Linked DNA regions of Homo sapiens: all the other regions are reported to be linked to region 2. The links are microRNA targets in miRTarBase. Many come from high-throughput screens and were not tested one by one. Region 2 holds a microRNA gene; each other region holds the end of a gene's coding sequence.
What was found. The annotated mature microRNA hsa-miR-512-3p reads AAGUGCUGUCAUAGCUGAGGUC and lies in region 2 at 2,225-2,246, shown strand. An mRNA with a match to its seed (bases 2 to 7 or 8) in the 3' UTR can be bound and repressed. Matches are read on the target gene's strand: a 7mer-m8 pairs with bases 2 to 8, a 7mer-A1 pairs with bases 2 to 7 and ends in A, and an 8mer does both.

Region 1 (3,479 bases), not on the chromosome of region 2:
CCCGCCCCCTATGACTCCTAAGACTCCACCCCCAGTGGCTCCTAAGCCCCCATCTCGAGGGCTCCTTGATGGGCTCGTGAATGGGGCAGCCTCTTCGGCTGGAATCCCTGAGCCACCAAGGCTGCAGGGCAGGGGTGGGGAGCTGTTTGCTAAGCGGCAGAGCCGTGCGGACAGGTATGTGGTGGAAGGTACACCTGGTCCTGGTCTTGGCCCTCGGCCTAGAAGTCCTTCTCCTACCCCGTCTCTGCCCCCTTCCTGGAAATATTCACCCAACATCCGTGCCCCGCCTCCTATTGCTTACAACCCACTGCTCTCTCCCTTTTTCCCCCAGGCGGCCCGAACTCTCCCTAAGGCCCAATCCCAGGGGCCTCGGGCAACACCCAAGCAGGGCATCAAGGCTCTAGATTTTATGCGGCATCAGCCCTATCAACTTAAAACTGCCATGTTCTGTTTTGATGAGGTTCCCCCGACTCCTGGCCCTATCGCCTCAGGGTCCCCCAAAACTGCCCGAGTCCAGGAGATTCGCCGGTTTTCCACTCCGGCACCCCAGCCCACTGCAGAACCCCTGGCTCCCACTGTGCTTGCCCCCCGAGCAGCCACTACACTGGATGAGCCCATCTGGAGAACAGAACTGGCCTCAGCCCCTGTTCCTAGCCCAGCCCCTCCTCCAGAGGCTCCCAGGGGCCTTGGGGCTTCTCCCAGCTCCTGCGGTTTCCAGGTAGCCAGGCCCCGATTTTCAGCCACCAGAACAGGATTGCAAGCTCATGTGTGGAGGCCTGGGGCAGGGCACCAGTGAACAGGCACAGGTCCCAGGACCAAGGAGAGGTGGAACATCCAGTTCCTAAAGTTGCTTCTCCTACCCTATCCCATCCCCTGTCACGCATCTGGAAGCTAAATTGCCTCCTGCCAGAGATGGTTTCCAAGTTGATGTCCCCTTCCCCCACCTTCCTCCTCACTCTCTACCTCCCTGCCGCTTTCCAACCAAGTATGTCTGCTTTGGTATCTTTGCCTCTCTTTGTCTCTGCATTTCCTTTCCTGGATCTCTGTCTTTATTTCCAGGCTTCTCCACCCATATTCCTCCACAGATCTCTCTTCCTTGACATTTGTGCTTTTCTCCCTGGGCCTCATTTTAATGTTCAGTGAGAAGTAAACAGAGCAGAAGTGACCACTGGGACTTCAGGCAAGAAGCTCACCACCAGGCACACAGCAAAGGGACTGAACTGACCCCTGTTTGCACTAAGCCACCCCCACCCCCCACTCTGCTTTCCCAAGCTTGACTGGCATATACCTAGGCCTGTGTGTGTGTGTGTGTGTGTGTGTGTGTGTGTGTGTGTGCTCTTCCGTCTAAGGCATGAATAAGAGGGGAGGTCAAAATAAAGACCCAATCTGAGGCCGGGCACGGTGGCTCACGCCGGTAATCCCAGCACTTTGGGAGGCCGAGGCGGGCGGATCACGAGGTCAGGAGATCGAGACCATCCTGGCTAACACGGTGAAACCCCATTTCCACTAAAAATACAAAAAATTAGCTGGGCGTGGTGGCGAGCGCCTGTAGTCCCAGCTACTCGGGAGGCTGAGGCAGGAGAATGGCATGAACCTGGAAGGCGGAGCTTGCAGTGAGCTGAGATTGCGCCACTGCACTCCAGCCTGGGCGACGGAGCGAGACTCTGTCTCAAAACAAACAAACAAACAAAAGACCCAATCTGAGTCTTATCGTTGTACTGATAGAAGGGTCAGATATCCCCACATGGAGTTGAGTGGGAGAAAGAGATTCACTAGAGAATAACTCCTTAGAGACCAATGTCTGTAGCAGGTGTACAGCATCTTGTGAAAGTTATGGAGCATGAAAAGACTGAAGGGCCAGGACAGTTTGCATGGGCTGAGTTATACCAGCTAGACCAGGAATAGAACAAAGAATTCTATACCTCAGGATTTCAAAAAGTTAGCAACTTGAGAGGCCAGTGCTGAGCAACCCAGTACCCAGGAAATGAAAAAAAGAAAGAAAATTCCCTCCGAGAATGAACAAATCATTGGCTTCATTGCCTCATGAGCTTGAGAGAAAGGAGAAGAGAGCCAGAGTGTGGCAAGTGAGGCCAAAATCAGAAGCATGGCAGAAATGAGTGTAAGTGATTGAGCCACAGACAGAAGTGTGGCGAGGGACAATGCCATATTGGGAGAAGGTAAAGTTGAGTAACAAGAAACCAACCGTGTGTGAGAGGGGGATTGGAAAAAAATTTGAGGGAGAAGAATGTTAGAATGGAAGGGAATGATGGTGGAAGGGAGGTGTGAGGGTGTGTGCTGAGTGTTGAAAGAACGGTTGGTGTCTGTGTGATTTTCCTTGAGTCTGTTCTTCAGTGTGTCTTCTGCAGCTTGCCATGACTGCCTGGGAAAGAGTAGGGAAATACCCAGAGCCAAAACCTCCTTTCAGTCCCACCCCATCCCTCAAAACCCCAGCTATTGCTTCTTTTCAGCTTCAGGTCCTGATCTCCAATCTTAGTATGGACTCCCTTCTCACCAAGACCACCACCAGCTACGTTTGCTGTGTAATCTGGAAAGTGATAATTTCCTTTGCTTGTTGGGTGTGAGTCACAATACTTTGGTTTGTGCACAAGAATAAATTTATGCCCCATACCTTCTGTTGCTGTTATCTTCTAGTTTTATTCCTAAATCCTGATCTCTCCTTAATCTTCTTTAACCCATTCCCCTGATCTGATTTCTGATCTGTCTCTTTTCCTGCCCTCCCATTTTTCATCCTTTTGCCCTTTGTTCCCAGGTCTTTTGCTCTTTTATACAAATTCTGTCCTGCTTTGATTTAGCCACCTCCATCACTCTTCTTGGTTCCCTCTCCCCACAGTCTTCATCCAAGTTCTCCCCTTTCCCTCCCTTGCCTCATACTTTCTAGGTAAGGCTTCAGTTCACAGAACTCAGAGAAGTTGGAAAGGCCCTCTGAGCCCTTTGCTATCAACATTTCCTCGCTCCTTAGAGGAAGCAACCATATTAAACAGTCTCTGGGAAGTAAATGAAGAGAAAGCAATGGCTGGAGGGCTGGAGGGGAAGGTGGGATGGGAGAGGGAAGAATAAAGCTGAATTGAGACTACTAAAGAAGGGAGGGCGTTGGAGGTAGGTGAGAATTAGACTTCAGAGAAGGAAAGTGCCATTGCTCTGATTCTGCCAGCAGAGGGCACATTTGTGCCAATAATCAGACCCAGGCCGCAGACTCTTCCAAGTGCACTGTCTTAGAATTCCAAAAAAAGATCTCAGAGACCATAGGTTAAATAGCCTGTCTTCACCCACTCAGTCGTTTTGGGTACTCAGTTGAAGGAGATCAAACTTTCAGTTTGTTTTTGTTTTTGAGGGTGAGGGTGGTAGTGATGATGAAGTCACCTTTAGCTATTTATAGTTCTTCTTTTTTTTTGAGATGGAGTCTCCCTCTGTGGCTCAGGCTGGAGTGCAGTGGTGCGATCTCAGCTCACTGCAACCTC
Region 2 (4,470 bases):
AATCCAGACCCCAAAAGCGGGTTCTTGGATCTCTTGCTGGAAAGAATTTCGAGGCAAGTCACAACACAGCGAAAGAAGCAAGCTGAGGCCTGGGCTCAATCCTCCTGCTTCGTCCTCCCAAAGTGCTGGGATTACACGCATGATCCCCTGTGCCCTGCCAATATTTGGTAATTATAACTGGTGGTCAGCTTACAATGTGGCTATTTCCAGACCATAAGTACCAACTCTATAGGTGCCTTGTGAGTGAGTGCCTTGCTACTTCAAGCAGTTACTTTCGTGTGTTATTAAACCAGAGGCCTGCTAAGCCTCTGTGCCTAGTAAAGATTACAATTTGGAATGTCAGCCCCCAGCTGTCCTGTGTGATTGGCAGGTTAGGTCCTTGTTGAACCAGAAGCAACTGGCCAGTCGTACAGATGCAACTTTCGGACCAGTAGAAAATTTCTATGTCAACCTGGAGACATAGGGATTGTACCTTTCTGATACCCTATTAGTAAATAAATAGTATTTATTTATAAATTATGTATAATAGTATTTATCTGAATATATCCCAAGCAGCCCAAGTGTGTTCCAGACATAACATTTTTATTTACATTTAAATATCACTAAGATTAGAGATACACATCTAACTCAGGTTTTCAACTAGTCTTACCATTGAAAGAACTATTGTGGCAGGACGCAGTGGCGCACGCCTATTATCCTAGCACTTTGGGAGGCCGAGGAGGGCGGATCACAAGGCCAGGAGTTCGAGACCAGCCTGGCCAGCATGGTGAAACCCCATCTCTACTAAAAATACAAAAAAATTAGCTGGGCATGATGGCACAGGCTTGCAGTCCCAGCTACTCGGTAGGCTGAGGCAGGAGAACTGCTTGAACCCGGCAGACGGAGGTTGCAGTGAGCCGAGATCGCGCCACCGAACTCCAGTCTGGGCAACAGAGCAAGACGCTTGTCTTAAAAAAGAGAGAGAAAGAACTACTTGTTCTCTGTAAGCCATGCTGGTTTAGCCAAAATGCTGCAGTTGTGTATGGCCAGGGACGTTGAGGCTGCAGTGAGCCGACGGCTGTGTTGCCGCTCTGCAGTCTGGGGGACAGAGCAAGAACCTGTCTCAAAAAAACAAGAAGTTAGTGAGACAGACATGCCGTTCTGTTACTTTTCCCCTTGCTGGTTCAAAGCTAGGTAGTTGCCAATTAAATGTAATCTTGTAGAGCAAAAATGTTTTTCATTTTTTGAGACAGGATCTCACTCTATTGCCCAGCCTGGAGTGCAGTTGTGGGAACTCACAGCAACCTCCACCTCCTGGGTTTAGGCAGTTCTTCTGCATCAGTCTCCCGAGTAGCTGAGACTACACCGGTGCCCAGAGGGCAGTGGCCAGATCTTGGCTCTCTGCAACCTCTGCCTTCCAGATTCAAGTGAGCCACCTCCGCCTCCTGAGTAGCTGGGACTATAAGTACGTACCACCATACCCAGTTAATTTTTGCATTTTTTGTAGATAAGGGGGCTAAGTATGTTTCCCAGGCTGGTTTCGAAGTCCTGTGCTCAAGCAATCCTTCTGCCTTGGCTTCCCAAACTGCTAGGATTACAGGTGAGCCACCACACCGGGCCTGTCCACGTAATTTAAAAGGTGCTGGACGTGTGCGGTGGCTCACGTCTGTAATCCCAGCACTTTGGGAGGCTGAGGTGGGCGGATCATGAGGTCGGGAGTTCGAGACCAGCCTGGCCAATATGGTGAAACCCTGTCTCTACTAAAAATACAAAAATTAGCCAGGTGTGGTGGCAGGCGCCTGTAATCCCAGTTTCTCAGGAGGCTGAGGCAGGAGAATTGCTTGAACCCAGGAGGCGGAGGCTGCAGTGAGCTGATGATCGCGCCATGGCACTCCAGCCTGGGCAACAGAGCAAGACTAAGAAAAAAAAAAGAGAAAAAGAAAAAGAAAACAAAGTAATTTAAAAGGTGTTATTCAGGCTGGGGATCCCCAAAGTGCTGGGATTACAGGCATGAGCCCCAGGGCAGGCCTAGGATTTGCATTACAAGGCTCTGCATTGTTCCTGAGAACTGGAGAGAATGCTCAATCTACCTTTCACTATTGAGCAACATTCAGAAGTCAGTTTTAAATCTCTTATCTTCTGCATAGAGGATGTGCCTGCAGTTTCCAGGTACTGGACAATACAGGGAGGGTACTTCTCAGTCTGTGGCACTCAGCCTTGAGGGCACTTTCTGGTGCCAGAATGAAAGTGCTGTCATAGCTGAGGTCCAATGACTGAGGCGAGCACCGAAAAAACACCATGGGGGGGAGGGGGGGCGGGGGGCTCCAGGAGCCACTGCAGGTAAAAGCTAAACCGTGGTGCTTGTTCTGCGCCATAAACTGGACTTCAGCCCAGCTTTAAGGAAATGACCAGGGTCTCTGGGTTGTGAGGCTGGGTTCCGTAGCAGCTATAATGCTTGGATTCAGGGATAGCCTGGGTCACACCATTGCCAGAGAAGAGGCAACCAATCCAGACCCCAAAAGCGGGTTCTTGGATCTCTTGCTGGAAAGAATTTCGAGGCAAGTCACAACACAATGAAAGAAGCAAGCTGAGGCCGGGCGCGGTGGCTCACGCCTGTAATCCCAGCACTTTGGGAGGCTGAGGTGGATGGATCACCTGAGATCACTATTTTTCTTTTTATTTTCTGAGATGGAGTTTCACTCTTGTTGCCCAGGCTAGAGTGCAATGGCACGATCTCGGCTCACAGCAACCTCTGCCTCCCGGGTTCAAGCCATTCTCCTGCCTCAGCCTCCGGAGTAGCTGGGATTACTGGCATGCGCCACCACGCCCAGCTAATTTTGTATTTTTAGTAGAGACGGGGTTTCTCCATGTTGGTCAGACTGGTCTCCAACTCCCAACCTCAGGTGATCCGCCCGTCTCGGCCTCACAAAGTGCTAGGATTACAGGCGTGAGCCACCGCACCCAGCCTGTTTTCTGCATTTTTAGTAGAGACAGAGTTTCACTATGTTGGCCAGGCTGGTCTCAAACTCCCGACCTTGTGATCTGCCCGCCTCGGATTCCCAAAGTGCTGGGATTACAGGCGTGAGCCACCGCGCCCGGCCTTATTTTTCTTTTTTTTTTTTTGAGACAGGATCCCACTCTATTGCCCAGCCTGGAGTGCAGTGCAGTGATCTCAGCTCACTGCAACCTCTGCCTCCCGGGTTCAAGCAATTCTCCTGCATCAGCCGCCCAAGTAGCTGAGATTACAGCCGTGCCTGGCTTATGTTTTGTGTTTTTAGTGGAGATGGGGTGCCACCATGCTGGCCAGGCTGGTCTTAAACTCCTGACCTCAGTTGATCCTCCCACCTCAGTCTCCCAAAGTGCTGGGATTACAGGTGTGAGCCACCGCGCCCAGCAAGCATAAGATTTTTTGACACATGGAGGATCACTTGCTGGATGTGCACTGAGAAGTAATGTGCCCATTTCCCAGCCACACTCTCCCAAAGGCTTTTACAGGCGCTGTCCCCGTGAGGTGGTAGAACAGAATGTCAGAATTCAACACATTCCAACACTGTCTTCTGTTGAGCTGTAGGAGGACTGCCTGTGGAGGGACATGGGTTCTATGCTACCTTGCAGGTTTTCCCTGGGGCTTGTGATCACTGTCTCCTTGGTGACATGCAATCTGGGAGTGCTTTCTGGAGTCTGATAAGAACATACTGGCACATTGCCTGTGACGTGTGGGACCCAGGCATTTTCAGTGCTGAGGTGAGTCCTTGATTGTAACTGATGGGGACTGGTATCTTAACTCCAGGTTACTGAAGACTAGGAATTTCTTGCCTTACAGTAAAATTGCAAAGAAGAGTAGCATAAGAGGTAGATCAGAAGACTGCAGAATAGATTAACAAATGAATGCCCAAATGAGGATGCTAAACTTGGATTTGCATCAAGAAGACAGATATTGGTCGGGCGTGGTGGCTCACGCCTGTAATCCCAGCACTTTGGGAGGCTGAGGCGGGTGGATCATCCTGGCTAACACGGTGAAACCCCGTCTCTACTAAAAAAATACAAAAAAATTAGCCGGGCGTGGTGGCAGGCGCCTGTAGTCCCAGCTGCTGGGGAGGCTGAGGCAGGAGAATGGCATGAACCCAGGAGGCGGAGCTTGTAGTGAGCCGAGATCGTGCCACTGCACTTCACCCTGGGCGACAGAGCGAGACTCTGTCTCAAAAAAAAAAAGGACAGGTATTAGGATAGTTTTGAAGCCCACTTGCTCCTATCATGGCATTGAAGCATCAGTTTGCTGCCAATCACTCCTTCTTCTGTGTTCATAGACAGGACTGTGGAAATGTACACTTGGATTCTTTCACAGGTAATGCTGAGAAATTTAAAACCAAAAACGGCCGGGTGCCGTGGCTCCTGCCTGTAATTCTAGCACTTTGGGAGGCTGAGGCGGGCGGATCACAAGGTCAGGAGTTCGAGAGCAGCCTGGCCAATATGGTGAAACCCCATCTCCAC
Region 3 (3,479 bases), not on the chromosome of region 2:
GATCCACCTGCCTTGGCCTCCCAAAGTGCTGGGATTCCAGGTGTGAGGTGTGAGCCACCGTGCCTGACCAATAAAGCTCTTTTTTTTTTTTTTTTTTGGAGACAAAGTCTTACTCTTGTCCCCCAGGCTGGAGTGCAATGCCTTGATCTTGGCTCACTGCATCCTCCGCCTCCCAGGTTCAAGTGATTCTTCTGCCTCAGCCTCCCGAGTAGCTGGGATTACAGGCGCCTGCCACCACATCCGGCTAATTTTTGTATTTTTCGTAGAGATGGGGTTTCACCATGTTGGCCAGGCTGGTCTCGAACTCCTGACCTCAGGTGGTCCACCCGCCTCACTCCCAAAGTGCTGAGGTTACAGGCATGAGCCACCGCGCCTGGCCTAAAGCTCTTTTTTAAAAACCATCTTTGATTAGCTGAAGGATTTAACTCCTCTTGTGAGAGGGCAGTTTTTACTAGCCATGGGACCCTGGGTAAATCTCTTTATTTCCTGGTGTCTCCGTTTCCTCCCCTGTGAACGAGCGATAACAGCTCCCTCAGGAGGAAGGTGGAAGGCGGTGAAGCACCTGGCATATGCAGTAGTGCTGAGATAGCACCTGTTCATCTCTCCCAAGACACCACTGTTCGGGTTGACAGGTGGTAGTGAAACCAAGCAGAATTCTCGGAGGGTGAGTCCAATCCAGACAGACTGGGTCCAGCAGATCCCTGAGTTAAAAGGAAATAACTTAACAGCCTTGACCTAGAATCAGATGGATGCTCATGTGCAGAGAAAATGGGATTTGCCACCTGTTCTCAACTCAAGGCAGGCTCTGTGTCTGGCGGCTTCAAGGAAGTGTCCCTTGGCCATGGCTCTTCCACTACGGGAGCAAGCAGGAGGCACCCAGGTCTCCCTGCCCACCCAGAGTCCCTGCAGGAGGCCCTCCAGATCTCTCAGTAACGGGCCCTCTTTCTTCTTTTTTTCAGCCTGGGGACTCCTCGGGATGGAAAGGCCTTCCGGATCTTTGCTGTCAGGCAGTGAATTTCCAGCACCAGGGGAGAAGGGGCGTCTTCAGGAGGGCTTCGGGGTTTTGCTTTTATTTTTATTTTGTCATTGCGGGGTATATGGAGAGTCAGGAAACTTCCTTTGACTGATGTTCAGTGTCCATCACTTTGTGGCCTGTGGGTGAGGTGACATCTCATCCCCTCACTGAAGCAACAGCATCCCAAGGTGCTCAGCCGGACTCCCTGGTGCCTGATCCTGCTGGGGCCTGGGGGTCTCCATCTGGACGTCCTCTCTCCTTTAGAGATCTGAGCTGTCTCTTAAAGGGGACAGTTGCCCAAAATGTTCCTTGCTATGTGTTCTTCTGTTGGTGGAGGAAGTTGATTTCAACCTCCCTGCCAAAAGAACAAACCATTTGAAGCTCACAATTGTGAAGCATTCACGGCGTCGGAAGAGGCCTTTTGAGCAAGCGCCAATGAGTTTCAGGAATGAAGTAGAAGGTAGTTATTTAAAAATAAAAAACACAGTCCGTCCCTACCAATAGAGGAAAATGGTTTTAATGTTTGCTGGTCAGACAGACAAATGGGCTAGAGTAAGAGGGCTGCGGGTATGAGAGACCCCGGCTCCGCCCTGGCACGTGTCCTTGCTGGCGGCCCGCCACAGGCCCCCTTCAATGGCCGCATTCAGGATGGCTCTATACACAGCAGTGCTGGTTTATGTAGAGTTCAGCAGTCACTTCAGAGATGTATCTTGTCTTTGTCAGGCCCTTCGTCTTCATGGCCCACCTGTTTTCTGCCGTGACCTTTGGTCCCATTGAGGACTAAGGATCGGGACCCTTTCTTTACCCCCTACCCGTTGTGGCTCCCACCCTGCCTCGGACTGGTTTACGTGTCCTGGTTCACACCCAGGACTTTTCTTTGCAAGCGAACCTGTTTGAAGCCCAAGTCTTAACTCCTGGTCTCGTAAGGTTCCACTGAGACGAGATGTCTGAGAACAACCAAAGAAGGCCTGCTCTTTGCTGCTTTTAAAAAATGACAATTAAATGTGCAGATTCCCCACGCACCCGATGACCTATTTTTTCAGCCGTGGGAGGAATGGAGTCTTTGGTACATTCCTCACCGAGGTTAGCAGCTCAGTTTGTGGTTATGAAACCGTCTGTGGCCTCATGACAGCGAGAGATGGGAATACACTAGAAGGATCTCTTTTCCTGTTTTCGTGAAACGACTCTTGCCAAACGTTCCCGAGGCGCCAAGGAGTGTAGTACACCCTGGCTGCCATCACTCTATAAAAGTGCTTCATGAGCCCAGACCAAAAGCCCACAGTGAAATGAAGTACCCTTTTGTAAATAGCATTTTTTTGCAGAAGGTGAAAATTCCACTCTCTACCACCGGGCCAGCCAATAGATCACTTTGGTGAATGCTAGTTTCAAATTTGATTCAAAATATTTCTTAGGTGAAAGAACTAGCAGAAAGTCAAAAACTAAGATACTGTAGACTGGACAAGAAATTCTACCTGGGCACCTAGGTGATGCCTTCTTTCTTTGATTGCCTTTCTAATAAATGCAGAATCTGAAGGTAAATAGGTTTAAAACAAAACAAAAACCCACCCCTTTAAGGAGTTGGTAAAAAGCAGTTCAACTCTTAGCTTGACTGAGCTAAAATTCACAGGACTACGTGCTTTGTGCATTGTAGTCTAGTCGTAATTCATAGGTACTGACTCCTCAGCCCCAAATGTCGGAGAGGAAGAATTCGGTCAGCCTGTCAGGTCGTGAGTCCAGTTACCACCAAACATCTGGGAAACTTCTGGGTGCTGGGTGCTCTGCTGCTGGACTTTTGTGGCTGTGTCTGTGTCTGCAAGATAAATTAGATCGCCCTGTGGGGTTTGCAGAATTAGTGAAGGGTCCAGGACGATCCCAGTGGGCTCGCTTCCAAAGCATCCCACTCAAGGGAGACTTGAAACTTCCAGTGTGAGTTGACCCCATCATTTAAAAATAAAGTCCCCGGGTTCCTTAATGCCTCCTTCACTGGGCCTTCCTAGCAGGATAGAAAGTCCTTGCCCAGAGCAGGACCTGGCTGTCTTTTTTTTTTTTTTTTTTTTTTTCCCGAGACCAAGTTTCACTCTGTTGCCCAAGGTAGAGTGCAGTGGCGTGATCTCTGCTCATTGCAACTGCCGCCTCCCGGGTTCAAGCAATTCTCATGCATCAGCCTCCCAAGTACCTGGGACTACAGGCGTGAGCTACCATGCCCGGCTAATTTTTGTATTTTTAGTAGAGATGGGGTTTCATTATGTTGGCCAGGCTGGTCTCGAACTCCTTACCTCAGGTGATCCACCCACCTTGGCCTCCCGAAGTGCTGGGATTACAGGCATGAGCCACTGCGCCCGGCCATGGACCTGGCTGTCTTTATCATCCCCACAAACATTTTGAAACTGGAATATTTGTCTTCAGAAAATGGAAACAAGACTATAAATGATAAGCCCTGTCCCTAGCACCACCTCTCCTGTGT

Region 1: the mRNA of SYNPO2L is a reported target of hsa-miR-512-3p. Seed matches in the 3' UTR shown: 7mer-m8 at 1,422-1,428.
Region 3: miRTarBase lists CRISPLD2 as a target of hsa-miR-512-3p. The part of its 3' UTR that is shown has no 7-base or 8-base seed match.

The regions. Positions count from the first base shown.
Region 1 is chr10:73,644,035-73,647,513 of GRCh38, reverse strand. SYNPO2L (synaptopodin 2 like) reads left to right here. Exons shown (of 4, transcript NM_001114133.3): 4 at 1-2,628. The coding sequence ends at 796. Among named protein-coding and RNA genes, the nearest start is that of MYOZ1, 4.3 kb to the right of the region's middle. RefSeq lists an enhancer at 3,367-3,416.
Region 2 is chr19:53,666,989-53,671,458 of GRCh38, forward strand. MIR512-2 (microRNA 512-2) reads left to right here and starts at 2,169; the gene lies at 2,169-2,266. The region is part of intron 2 of LOC107985342 (a long non-coding RNA gene); the gene reads left to right. RefSeq lists enhancers at 1-391, 1,280-2,168, 2,169-3,056.
Region 3 is chr16:84,905,629-84,909,107 of GRCh38, forward strand. It overlaps CRISPLD2 (cysteine rich secretory protein LCCL domain containing 2), which reads left to right. Exons shown (of 15, transcript NM_031476.4): 15 at 960-3,479. The coding sequence ends at 1,014. Among named protein-coding and RNA genes, the nearest start is that of LINC02176, 21 kb to the right of the region's middle.